Homo sapiens: one gene and its partner. The protein of the gene in region 2 purifies or fractionates together with the protein of the main gene of each other region. This does not show direct contact. Each region holds a gene or a part of one and is shown on either strand. Other genes may lie near its edges. The genes, in order: NUDCD2 and RCBTB2.

Region 1 (3,828 bases), on a different chromosome or scaffold from region 2:
AACATAATTTACATAGGAAATGTACTGTGGGAACTATTCTATGGATATATGGTAAAGTTGTTTTGGACTTGTTTTTGCTCAGCATGAAGTTTTATATGCTGCATTTTACTAATTCCATATTTAACCATATTTTTAATACAAAAGAACATTAGAGTATAGATCATGTGAAATGAAGGGTGCCTTTGGGGAAAATTAACTTTTTCTTTTGATAAGTATGATATTCAATAAAATTTTCTAAATAGGAATTGTGTACCCCTTTGTCTAAGTATAACAATTCACACAAAATTATAGTGCTGAAAACAATTTTAATAAAGGAAAAAGTCCATAAATGTATTTTAAGTAAATTAAGAGTTAATGTAAATTTCTTAATTAGAATATTATTACTTGAGGGATTACTTTATGTCAAGAAGTTTAAAAATAGTTAAAACCCTAACAATAGAAGTGGATTAACACAAAAGAGAAGTGTGATCATGGTAATTAGGTGAGTCCTTTGTGGCAGAAAGCAAAGTAAGGTCACTAATTGTATATCAGTGGCATCATTTTGATTGTAAGTGATTTAGGCATATAGGTAGGAATTGTCTATAGACATTTTATTCAATATCCTATTTATGTCCTTTTTATTTTTTGCCCTTTTTAACTCTTGAAAAAATTTTAAATCTCATGCATAGAAAAGTTACAGATAATTTTTTTCTTTCTGAACCATTTGTGATTTAGTTGAAGACATGATTCCTCATTACTGATTACTATCTGCTTCAAATTATCTTACATGACTACAATGCAACCATTAGAATCAGGAAATTTACGTTGACACATTACTACCCTCTAATCCTCAGATCTTCACTTCATTCACATTGAACTGATTGTCCCAATAATGTCCATATAGCAAGAGGATCCAGTCAGAATCATGCCTTTCATTTAGATGTCAGCTGTCTTTAGTTTACTTCATTCTGGAACAAATTCTCATTTGTTTCCTTTTACAACTTAGTACTTTTGACAATTATGGGCTAGTTTTGTAGAACACCCCTTATTTTGAGTTCTGTCTGATACTTCATGATTAGATTGAGGTTATTCATCTTTGGCAGGAATGTGATAGAAGTGCATCCTGTCATTGTTTAATAATTTCAGTTTGTCTCATTTCTGATGGTGTTTCTTAGATGACTGATTAAGGTAGTGTCTGCCAGACTTCTCCACTGTAGTTATTTTTATAATTATTTCTTGAGAAGATAGTTGCAAAATACTACCTTGTTTCTGATCAGACTTTAAATTTATCGTATCTCTATAAACTCATTATTTTCTATTTTATTCAGCAGGTTAAAAAACCTATTATCATTACATTGGTGCTCAAAATTATTGTACATTTGGCTGGTAGAAGTCCATTCTGGGTGGCCTCTGTGTCCTTCTGACACATTCCCATCATTATTCAATGAATTTGTTACTCTCTGGCATAAGATATACCAGGCTTCTCATGCTGTCCTCGACCTAACCCAAGAATCAGCCATTTTTCCGTAGAGCCTGGGTTCTCTTTAGTGAGTAATATTTAAAAGCCAAGATCTGTGCTAGTGTGCAATTGCCGTTGGTGTGTATATATAATGCATGTCTTTACATCTATATTTCTGCATCTATGTATATTGAAAACCATGAATTCACATATAAATTCTGATCCCATGGGCTTCATTTTCATTTTTTCCTTCTCCACATTTATAACCGTTTTCAGTACCAGTGAGAAACCTGATTCCTATTTGATTATTTGTGGGGTTTTTTTTTTTTAAGGTGGAGTTTCACTCTTGTTGCCCAGACTGGAGTGCAGTCGCGCGATCTCGGCTTACTGCAACCTCCGCCTCCTGGGTTCAAGCGATTCTCCTGCCTCAGCCTCCCAAGTAGCTGGGATTACAGGCATGCGCTGCCACACCTGGCTAATTTTTAATTTTTGGTAGAGACGGGGTTTCTCCATGTTGGTCAGGCTGGTCTCGAACTCCGGACATCAGGTGATCCGCCCGCCTGGGCCTCCCAAATTGCTGGGATTACAGGTGTGAGCCACTGCGCCTGGCCTGATTCTCTATTGTAGGTCATCTCCCCACATGAATGTCTTCCTCACCCTGCTTAGGCTTCGCATCCTATGCTGAGCAGGAATGTCCTCCTCATCCTGCCTGGACCCTAATACCTCACTCCAGGCCATGGCAGTCCATTCACCCTGTGATTCCTATCTTGCTCATTTTAGGAATGAATTGTCGGGGGAAGAGGCTATTTTTCTTTTAATTTTATTCTCTTTGACATTTAACAAAATTTTTTGAGTAAAGTAAAATTAACTTTTTTGGTGTATGGTTTGGTGAATTTTAAGTATAGATATGTGTAAACACCTCCACAGTCAGAGTATTGAAGAGTTCAATCACCGTAAAAACTCTCGTGCTCTCTTTGTACTCTACACACCCTACTCCCAGCCCCTAAACCTTGGAAACCACTGATCTAATCCCCATCTCCATATTTTTGTCTTCAAGCATGTTATAAATGGGATCATATATAATTAAGAAAAACGCTTTATTGTAACAACATACATTTCACCCATTTAAGGTGTGTAATTCAGTAGCTTTTAGTATATACACAGATAAATGCAACCATTCCAATAATCAATTTTAGAATGTTTTCATCACCTCAGATAGAAACCTTGTATAGTTTAGCTTTTATCCTTCTCCTGTCATCCCCCGCCATCCATACTACCTCTTTTCATCTCATAGATTTCCTTATTCTGGACATTTCATGTACATGGAATCATAATACGTGGTCTTTGGTTACTGGCTTCCTTCACTTTACATGTCTTAAGAGGTTCATCTATATTCGAGCATGTATCAGCACATTCATTAGTATGTCTGAAAATACTTCATTGTATGGCTGTAGCACTTTGTTTATACATTTGTAAGTTGGACATTTTGGGTATTTCCACCCTTTGGCTGTCCTGACTAAAGCTGCTATAAACGTGTACAAGTCTTTATGTGCATATGTGTTTTCATTTCTTACCTAGGAGTAGAATTTTTAGGTTATATGATAACTATGTTAATCATTTGAGGAGCTGTCATTGTTTCCCAAAGCAGCTACATCTTTTTACTTTCCCACCAGCAGTGTATGCAGGTTCCATTTTCTCTGCATCCTTGCCAATACTTGTTTACCTGACATTTTGATTTTAGTCACTCTAGTGGATATGAAATGGGATCTCTATCTAGTTTTGGTTTGCTATTCTCTGATACTATGTTGAGCATTCTTTCTTGTGCTTATTGGCTATTTGTGTATCTTCCTTAAAGCAGTGTTTATTCAAATTATTTACCCATTTTTTTAGTTGTCTTATTGGGTAGTAAGAGTCTTTATATATTCTGGGTACAAGTCTCTTACCAGGTATATGATTTGTAATTTCTCCTATTCTCTCTTTACTTTGTTGATAGTGTCTTTTGAAGCACAGACTTAATTTTGATGAAGTCTTATCCATCATGCCATTGGTGGATCATGTTTTTGGTGTCATGTCTAGGAACCTTAACCCCAGGTCATGAGGAATTTTTCTTTTTTCTTTTTTTGACTCACATTCTCACTCTGTCACCCAGGCTGGGGTGCAGTGGCACAATCTCCACTCACTGCAACCTCTGCCTGCTGGGTTCAAGTGATTCTTGTGCTTCAGTCTCCCAAGTAGCTGGGACTACAGGTGTGCACCACCACTCCCAGCCCATTTTTTTTTTATTTTTTATTTTTAGTAGAGTTGGGATTTCACCATATAGGCTAGGCTGGTCTTGAACTGACCTCAACGGATCTGCCCGCCTCAGCCTCTGAAGTGCTGGGATTACAGGC
Region 2 (3,828 bases):
CAGCACTTTGGGAGACCGAGATAAGAGGATCACTTGAGCCCAGGAGCTACCAGCCTGGGCAATGTGGCAAAACCCTGGCCCTGCAAAAAACACAAAAATTAGCTAGGTATGGTGGCATGCTCCTGTAGTCCCAGCTACTCCAGAGGCTAAGGTGGGAGGATCGCCTGAGCTTGGGAAGTCAAGACTACAGTGAGCCGTGATTGCACCACTGCACCCCAACCTGGAAGACAGGGAGACTGTGTCTCAAAAAATAAAAATAAAAAAATAACAGGCCATACAAATCCATCGTTTTTATTTCCATGCCATCTTTATTTGATCCTTTAACTCTGTTTTTCAGTTTAAATGTTAAGTGTCCCTACCAACTGAGGCACTTTTGTGGTTATTCAAAGCCTCAGGACTGTCCCTTCTCTTCTGAGGAGCTCTAAGCTACAAGATGTGTGAATGAACAGCTGCAGGCATCTACCTGCACCACCTCCTGCCTCCATTATTGTCCCTCCTCCCAATTCTGAAGGGGCCAGGGGTCTTAAATTTTAAGGTTTTTGGAGAAAAAAGTTTTATTTAACCTATAAAATTAACCTATGTTAAATTGGTTAAATAAAACTTTTAAAACATAGGTTAAAGAAAGTCAGCCAAGTTCACAATACCCAAATGAAAACTGAGGCAGTTGAAAAATGACAATTTGGTTCTTCATTTTCATTGTTAAGTATTCCAGCAGAAAATTAGAAAAGAACTGCATATAAATGTGAGCTAATCTGTTTGTCTACATATTTCTTTTAAAATTAAATATAATAAAGATATATGCAGTAAAAACAGCAGCATTCATTTCTACAATGACTGCAACCCTGGTTTAAAAGAAAAGATAGTGAAACGTTTTTGCTCTACACTACTATCAGGAAATGAAAAGTGGAAAGGCAGTGATCTGACCATGCTTGAGAAATTCCAAAGGCTTTCAAAAATATCAGAATAACGTGGAAACTAATTCTGGATGTGCTAATTACATAACACAACCTTGCAAACAAGTGCACAAAAGTAAATCTTAATTTCCTAACCATTTTACTCTTCCTCGTAGTGACAGCTTGGGAGTTAAAGTAATGAAATAACCCTATCCTTCTCAACTGGCAAATTTCCATGTAGCTGAGTGACCAGCTTTATACCCCATGCAAGGTACCTTTTCCTAAGCCAGGGAAGAGCGACCTTGAATGTTATTGACACCCCCTTAAGAATGTAAAACAGGAAAAGGAGGAGGGCAAAAGGGTGATTTGTAAGGCAGAAGAGTAACAGAATAGCTGTTGCAAGTTTAGTCACTGCAGTTTGCTTAGAATAGCTGTTGGAGGTATAGATGAAACATGGGTAAGTGAAAATAGCATATTTAACATACAATCAACCTCCCCAACAATTCCAAAGCCAATTTTTCTAAAGGAATAAATACTCTTGTTAAATAATATTCTAACACTAGCAGTACATTCCCCACCATTCTCTATATATCTAAGTCCTGTTTAATCACAATCACCAAAGACCAGTGTGGGGACTGTGAAAATGCCCGTGTTACCTGTCCTTTTCCACAGTGACAGGAGTAGGATAGGACTGGTTGCTTTTATTGCCAGTGCCCAACTGCCCATAAGAATTGGCGCCCCAAGCATACACTTGGCCTTCATCTGTTAATACTAATGTGTGTGCGTAGCCACAGGCGACCTGGAAGGAAAAAAATCCACTCAGGACTGCAAATATAAGTAATTATTTCACTGCTTCCACAAAGTAGGTTAAGAATCAAAAATGAAAAAAAAAGGAAGAGGCAGCCTACCCGTAGGAGAGGCAAGCATTAAGTTAACCAACATCCTTCCAGAACATGTGGGCCAGAATTGCAGTAAGATTGCCATGAGTACCCTGGCGTGAGCACCTGCCCCAGTTCACTAGAGCTTTAATACTCACAGAAATCAAGGGGTATGAGGGGAATGTAAGAAACAGACACTTGTATTTTTTAAATAATTATTTTCTTTTTTGATTATAAAAGTAAAACATGTTCAATTTGAAAAATATAGAAAAATATAAATATAAAAGTACTCTGAATATCAGAGGCATTTTTTTTCTATTTCTATATAGACATAGAGATATGTACCTATAGCATTTTTTTACTGACCATGTTGTATAAGCAGTTCTGTATCTTGCTTCATTTTACCATTACACATAGCAGTTTTCCATGTCATTAAAAATTCTTTGTATACAATACATCATCTCCAGCATATATACTTGGCATAATTTATCTAATCATTAACTTACGATTTGATTAGTAAATTCTGTTACACCTATTTTTTTTATTAAAGTTATCCTCTTTTTATATGTATATGTATCTTCTTAACTAATTCTGTAAGACAGTTACAGGAATTGTTGGTTCCTCAGGGAAATTCCCTAGGAGTAGAACTACAGGTCAAAGGGTATAAAAGCTTTTAAGCTTCCTCAGGAAAGCTTGTAACAATTTATATTCCAAAAGGTATGTGACAGTGCCCTGGAAGAGAAATTTTCTGAACAGCTGCAATTTAATTCAAGGAAAAAGAGACTTAACCTTTACTTTAATGAAGACATCCAAGCAGCTAAACTTTTCATCCTGCCAACAAATCTATGTTTTTAATACATTGATATCTTTGCCAGCGAAGACTTAAAAATACACGCACACAAACTGACAGTGGACGTACCCTCTGGACACGGATGCCTTGCAAAGCTGCCACTCTGCAAGGGGTTGGCTGGTTGCCACTGTTGCCGAGTCCAAGCTGCCCGTTTCCGTTGTAACCCCAGACATAGACCTGAGAGAAAATGAGACCCTCAATCCTCTCAAGAGACAAATGGCCAGCAAGCTGTCTGTTATGTGGGACATACCATACTGGCATGAGACTGATGTGGCAAACACGGTTTTTAAACAAGATGTAAAATAACTTCCTTACCTCCCCCGTGTCTACTACTGCCATGCAGCACATCTGCCCACATGCTATGGTCACAACTACTTTATTTTGTAGGCAGCCAGTGACTCTTCGAGGGATTGGCTGATTAACTGTTGATCCAGATCCTACCTGCCCAGAGTTATTATAACCCCAGGCAAATACCTGTTTAAAGGAAAGATCAGTAAATGAAACAGATTAATTTATAAACTGTCTCAACTGGACACTGACATGTACTTGTGGCACCGAGTCTTTCCTCTCAAAGTGCTTCACATTCATAAATCCTCACAACACAGGCAGAGAAGTGTTTATAAAATGCATTCTTATACAATGTACATGATTTTATACAATTAGGTTATTGGTGTTATCTATACAAACAGTAATAATTACTATTAAATAAAATGTAACACAAAAGTATCTACTTTGCCCCAGCCATCTTTTCCAGCATTTGGGGATTTTTCTTATTGCAAATAACCTCTTTACTACAGCAACAGAGAAGGAACAATACCTCCTTTTAAATTTTGCAATTATGGAAGACCTTACTACGTACAGGTAAATGTCACAACATCAACACCCTGACTGTGAATTGCTACCAAAAATAAGGCTGAATTTGAGGGAGGTGGTTATTTTAATCAAATGATTGTATTTCCAGGACTACTATAGAAGTCTACATAATCTTATTGAAAAAAATCAATGAGCTTTATGCTGACTGTTCTCACCTCTCCATCAGATGTTAGCACCAAAGAATGGTAAGACCCACAGGCAACTTCAATGACTTGTTTGTTTGACAGATTAGTAGAGATATGACAGGGCACTAAACCATGATTAGTTGTCCCATTGCCCAGCTGGCTATAAGCATTATGACCCCAGGTAAAGACTTCTCCTTCTGAAAATAAAA

The links.
Region 1: the proteins of RCBTB2 (region 2) and NUDCD2 purify together in Homo sapiens (affinity purification with mass spectrometry; 2 studies listed by BioGRID and IntAct, with this or other methods). This does not show direct contact.

What each region holds. Positions count from the first base shown.
Region 1 is NC_000005.10:163,449,993-163,453,820, reverse strand, and holds part of NUDCD2 (nudC domain-containing protein 2), read left to right. Parts: 3' UTR 1-3,828. UniProt on the Homo sapiens protein: May regulate the LIS1/dynein pathway by stabilizing LIS1 with Hsp90 chaperone.
Region 2 is NC_000013.11:48,509,080-48,512,907, forward strand, and holds part of RCBTB2 (RCC1 and BTB domain-containing protein 2), read right to left. Parts: intron 3,817-3,828; coding exon 3,650-3,816; intron 3,096-3,649; coding exon 2,937-3,095; intron 2,799-2,936; coding exon 2,691-2,798; coding exon of another isoform or gene 2,598-2,690; exon of another isoform or gene 2,079-2,597; intron 1,693-2,078; coding exon 1,550-1,692; intron 1-1,549.